Regions from separate parts of the Homo sapiens genome. Here region 1 is linked to region 2. A link means that fine-mapping ties the variant in region 2 to the expression of a gene that starts in the linked region. Tissue or cell type: blood mononuclear cells. Region 2 holds a variant in brackets; the other region holds the start of a gene. All regions are shown on one strand. Distances are between the middles of the regions.

Evidence for each region. PIP is the estimated chance that this variant, and not a neighbour inherited with it, causes the effect.
Region 1: it holds the start of TENM2-AS1, and the variant in region 2 is the best candidate, but not a certain one, in a credible set for the expression of TENM2-AS1 in blood mononuclear cells (TOPMed, PIP 0.57).

The regions. Positions count from the first base shown.
Region 1 is chr5:168,231,091-168,234,003 of GRCh38, forward strand. TENM2-AS1 (TENM2 antisense RNA 1) reads right to left here and starts at 1,282. Exons shown (of 3, transcript NR_109894.1): 1 at 1,214-1,282. All of the region lies in intron 27 of TENM2 (teneurin transmembrane protein 2), which reads left to right.
Region 2 is chr5:168,225,964-168,228,876 of GRCh38, forward strand. TENM2 (teneurin transmembrane protein 2) reads left to right here. Exons shown (of 31, transcript NM_001395460.1): 26 at 125-300; 27 at 1,932-2,167. LOC124901128 (a long non-coding RNA gene) reads right to left here and starts at 1,936. Exons shown (of 2, transcript XR_007059038.1): 1 at 1,771-1,936; 2 at 647-1,502. RefSeq lists an enhancer at 2,389-2,478. The variant T/A (reference allele first, on the strand shown) is at 1,647.

The DNA of each region.
Region 1 (2,913 bases), 5.1 kb after region 2:
AGAGCTTAATAAGCAGGCCTGGATACGGCAGGCCTCACTTCCACCCACCCTGGTGAGAACACTATCAGGGAACCTCAACTGAACCACAGGGAAGCCTGGAAAATGTTGTCTTTTCTGAGTGCCTAAGAAGAAGAAGATGAACAAAGACTTGGTAAGCACGTAGCAGAGTGATCAGGTCTCCCGTTTGACAAGAGATCAGGAAGGGCTTCACAGAGGAGCTGGAATCATTTCTGTAGAGTAGTAAGAATCAGCCAGGCAGAGATAGGGAACAGAGGTGACAGGACAAAGAATGTCGCCAGTGGAAAGGCCAAGAGGCCAAAAAGGGAATGGCATTTCAGAAAACTAATTCAGTGTGGCAGTGGATGTGTTAGAGAGTAGGGTAGAAAAAGAAGATGCAGCCAGAGACTGCACATGGAAAAGAACATGGTGCCAGGCTAACATTTATCCTGAGGGCAATGGTGAGCCCTACCTGGACTTCATTAGCAGAGTGATGTGCTGGGATGTGTGGCATTAGAAAGCTCTCTCCAGCCTGGGCACAGTGGCTCATGCTTGTTTTCCCAACACTTTGGGAGGCCAAAGTGGGAGGATCATTTTCGCCTAGGGGTTCAAGACAAGACCAGCCTAGGCAATATAGCAAAACCGCAATATAGCAAAACCCTGTCTCTACAACAACAAACAACAACAACAACCAAAAAAAAAAAAAAAGTTTAAATAGCCGACCATGGCCTGGCACAGTAGCTCATGCCTATAATCCTAGCACTTTGGGAGGCCAAGGCAGGAGGATCCCTTGAGCCCAGGAGTTGGAGACCAGCCTGGGCAACATAGGGAGACCCTGTCATGGTGGCACATGCCTGTAGTCCCAGCTATTCGGGAGGCCAAGGCAGGAGGACTGCTTGAGCACAGGAGTTTGAGGCTGCAGTGAGTTCTGATCATGCCCTGTACTCCAGCCTGGGCAACAGAGCAAGACCCTGTCTCAAGAAAAGGAAAGAAAAGATCTCTCTGACTTCCTCAGGTATGGAGGAAGACAGATGAGAAGGGGACAAGATAGATGATAGGAGGAGAGGGACAGTAAGGAGGGTGCTGCATTAGTCCAAACAAGAAACTAAATCACTAGCAGCGAGGAAAGAAAGAAGGTAGGGGGAGAGATTTGAGAGATGTCTAGCACACGAGGACGAGGATTGGGCAACTAGCAGGGTTGCTGTGTCATGCTCACCTTTTGACAGGCTCTCCCCATGATCATGTAAACTGGGAAGGCTGGGTGGCCGTCCACGCTTTGTGGGCTCTGTAAAAGAGAGTGGCTGGGAGCTGAAACCCAAGCCAGAGATGTAAGATTCTGGTGGCCCCAGCCCTGCCTCTTGGAATGGAGAAGAAACTAAATGAACTTTGAAATGCAGCCACTTAACCAGCTCCATGTAATCACTGCTCCCCATGTGGAGAGCAGGGATTTGGAGAGAATGTGTGGGTATCATGCATGAAGCAAATAGCCTGAACGTCCCCGGGACTGGCAAGCTCCTGGGAGCCTGGTCAGCTGAGGGGTGTGAGGGCCCAAGGCTCTGAACATTCCTGGAGTTTAGAGAAGACCAACAATCTCAGTGAAGCCATCACAATAGAACAGTGCCCAGTGAAATTCCAACCCACCTAGGTACCCTTTCTTCCCACAATCCTCCAGACGGAGGCATCTCTTAGTGGAGGAAAGTATCAGTGGCTCTTCCTTACAGCCTGGGGAAATGTAAGATGATGGCGGATGGATAGACCGGGACCACATCCTTTCACCAAAAGCTTTGTAATGGAGTGTTAGTCCCTTCATTCCTGCCCAAACTCAGTGCAGGGAAGATTTTCATTATGCCTCCCAAGAACTCCTCAAAGAATCTCCTTTGAAAGAGTCCTCCCCCTCCTTCCCGCATTGTCCTCCATTCCTTTCTTCACTCACTCTGGCCTTGCAAAAACATGAAGCAGGCCGGGCGTGGTGTCTCACGCCTGTAATCCCAGCACTTTGGGAGGCCGAGGCGGGTGGATCACGAGGTCAGGAGATCAAGACCCTCCTGAACAAAATGGTGAAACCCCATCTCTACTAAAAATACAAAAATCAGCTGGGTGTGGTGGCGCATGCCTGTAATCCCAGCTACTCAGGAGGCTGAGGCAGGAGAATCGCTTGAACCAGGGAGTCGGAGGTTGCAGGGAGCCAAGATCGTGCCACTGCACTCCAGTCTGGCAGCAGAGTGAGACTCCCATCTCAAAAAAAAAAGAAGCAGTTACATCATGGCATCTGTGAGCTCCATAAGTGCAGGGACCAGGTCGCCCCTGTATCCCTGGTGACAAGTGCCATGTGGTGGGTACTCAGACAACAGGTGACAAAGAAAGATGTAATAACTGTGCCTTCTATAGGCGCCTTCTTAATGTGTAAATGCTCCCCCACCACAGTGGGTATAAATTCACAAATACATTGCCCCTACATCTGTCTGGAATCCTTCCACTGCAAGAGACAGGAAGTGCATTCAGACTAACTTAGAAGAGTAGGCGCTGTCTTACCTAACAGGGCCACCACAAGGGAGAAGCTGGCCTCAGAGACTCTAAGATGTCATTAAATGGTGTACTAGTCTGTTTTCACGCTGCTGATAAAGACATACCCAAGACTGGGAAGAAAAAGAAGTTTAATTGGACTTACTTACAGTTCCACATGGCTGGGGAGGCCTCAGAATCATGGCGGGAGGCAAAAGGCACTTCTTACTTGACGGCATCAAGAGAAAATGAGGAAGAAGCAAAAGCGGAAACTCCTGATAAACCCATCAGATCTCGTGATACTTATTCACTATCACTAGAATAGCACGGGAAAGATCGGCCCCCAGGATTCAATTACCTCCCCCTGGGTCCCTCCCAACACATGGGAATTCTAGGAGATACAATTCAAATCAA
Region 2 (2,913 bases):
GAGATGCGCCACCCAGCCAACCCACCTTCCCAGCTCTTTCTCTGGCCCTGTGAGTCTTGGGAACACTGTCAGCCCCAATGACTGCTGCTAACCAGGGTTTATCTATCTATCTATCTCCCCCCAGCTATGACCACGAAGGCCGCCTGACCAACGTGACGCGCCCCACGGGGGTGGTAACCAGTCTGCACCGGGAAATGGAGAAATCTATTACCATTGACATTGAGAACTCCAACCGTGATGATGACGTCACTGTCATCACCAACCTCTCTTCAGTAGAGGCCTCCTACACAGTGGTACAAGGTGAGCCTCCACCCATACCATCCTACCCCCAAACTCACCCATAGACCCAGAACCCAGCCAAGCCCAACATGTGAGTTATGCAGCCTGGGAGGACTTCCAGAGACCCAGCGTACCCCTAGCTTTCTATTTTATTCAAGTGTCCACAGCAAACTATAAGAGGTCAATCTTGTAGAAAATGACTTAATCAGATAGAACAGAATGTCATCTACACCCAGCCAAATGTCTAGATATTTGAACTGTCTACATAGTTATCTGAAAATGTCCATTTCCACCCGCCCCCCACATACTCTCTCCCTACCTCTTACCCTTCCATCACCACCTCTCCCCACCAACCCAAAACACATAGTTATCTTCTCAAAGGCCATTTATTCTCCTGGCTCACCACTAGACTTCATATTTTCTTGTTCCATCCTGATTCTCTCTTTTAAGCATTTGTTTGATGAGTTGGTTGCCCTGGGACTGGAGCTCTTTAACATTCTCTCTCCAAGACTGGGATCTCAAAGGTCTCTGCCCACCCTGTGGTTATTGTTGCTACTAGACATGTTTTGCAGTCCAGGGCAAGCACTGGGGCTGGCAAGAAAATGAATTGTGCCGATTAATTTTTCTTTTAATTAAGATATAATGTCGGTGGGCTAGCCCGTTGTCAGAGGATAAAAGTGTCCTCTCAGTAGATAAATGGTGACATTTCTGGACTATTATCCCACAGCGGAGCCTGTTTCAATGACTCTATTTCTGCTCTGCCAAATGATTAATGATGTAGATTCTGTCCTTCTGCGTGTGACGGCTGGAGTCACAGGAGCGACAGGTACACACTTGCTCACTGCCCCAAAAGCTGACATCTCAGAGGCCAGCCCAGGCCAGCTCCTTTGCCCAGACAGTCAGGAAGCAGTGTATCTGTAAAAGGAGTCTCTGACTCACATTTCCTTCCCGTAACTTTTCGGTAAAGGAAAAGGTCAGACGTCTGATTGACTCGTGTAGTTTCCACTGGGGAAGATAAACACATTATCAGCACCCACCCACTGACTCCAGCTCCCTGATGTATTTGAGTCTCTTCAGAGTTCTCTTGAGTGGGGGTGGTATCAGGTGCAGTCGGCAGTAAAAGCATGAGGATGGGGAAGGTTGACTTCTTCTCTCCATTTTCTCAAAGAAAGAATCCTGGGCTTTGATTTGTAGTGGATCTGGCCTGTGGCTAGACCAGCAACCTTGGGTTAGACGGCAGGCAAAAGGAGGAAAACTGAAGTCATTTGCCTTTCTTTTTTTTTTTTTTTTTCCTGGTATAAGCTAAAATATATATGTTAAGCTTCGGGAATTTGATTGACACAAATTGTGTAGGCAATAGACATCTT[T/A]AAATGTTTAAACGTGCTATTAATAGTCTTCAGTGAGTAAAAGAAACATCACGGCATAATTATTTCTGGAGTGCCACATATTATGTTTTTCTTTACGTGGATCAGTAGTATCTCTGCTACTTACCTTCACATGGTATGTATGTGTGCTAATTGAAGGCAGCCTTCGACTAATGGCTGCAAAGTACCATGGAAACCTATTAAAAAAAAATAGGGGTTCTATTCTCTTCTGACTAATAGAGCGGATAATTTATTTCCCTATCCCCACCCCCACTTACATTTTTCCAGATCAAGTTCGGAACAGCTACCAGCTCTGTAATAATGGTACCCTGAGGGTGATGTATGCTAATGGGATGGGTATCAGCTTCCACAGCGAGCCCCATGTCCTAGCGGGCACCATCACCCCCACCATTGGACGCTGCAACATCTCCCTGCCTATGGAGAATGGCTTAAACTCCATTGAGTGGCGCCTAAGAAAGGAACAGATTAAAGGCAAAGTCACCATCTTTGGCAGGAAGCTCCGGGTAAGTGGTTCCACCCAATCTGTTACCACAGAGTGGGAGGGGATATACACTTTCCTCACAGAGCTGAGAAAGTTTCTCTGTTACCACAGAGTGGGAGGGGATATACACTTTCCTCACAGAGCTGAGAAAGTTTCCCAGCTTCAAAGCCTCTAATACCCCTTTATTCCCTGGAAAAGGCAAACTCTCCACTCAGAAGGTAGAATCCATCTCCCTTTGGGACTCATACCTTGGGAAAAACGTTCTCCATTTCCATTTCCTAGGACTGAAAAAGGCGGCCATTTCCTGCTATGGGGATTTACATTACGCTGTAACTAGAGACAGCTTTGGTCTTCTTTTCACACTTGCTGTCTTCTTCTTCCTCAGTTTTCACTGTCTGGCCAGTTCAACCAATGAATTGGTGTTCGTGCCTACTATGTGCTGAGTAATTTGCTAAGTGCTGGAAGAACAAAACTTTTAAAGTATGTTCTTTGCACTCAAGGAATTGAGGGTCTGATAAAATATGCAGACACAGGATGATCACAGGTTAAGTGAAAAGACAGAGGTACATGCAGGGTCTGATGGGATCCCAGAGGGATGCCACTCAGCCTGAGAGGTTCAGGGAAGATTTCCCAAGAGGAAGTAACAACTGAACCTCAGTGGGGAGTTTTAGCCAACCCTCGTTTTCCCAGACCAGGCAACTTGCCCCACGTGACATCTTTTTAAAACCAATATATAACATTAATTATATTATTATTATAATTATTATA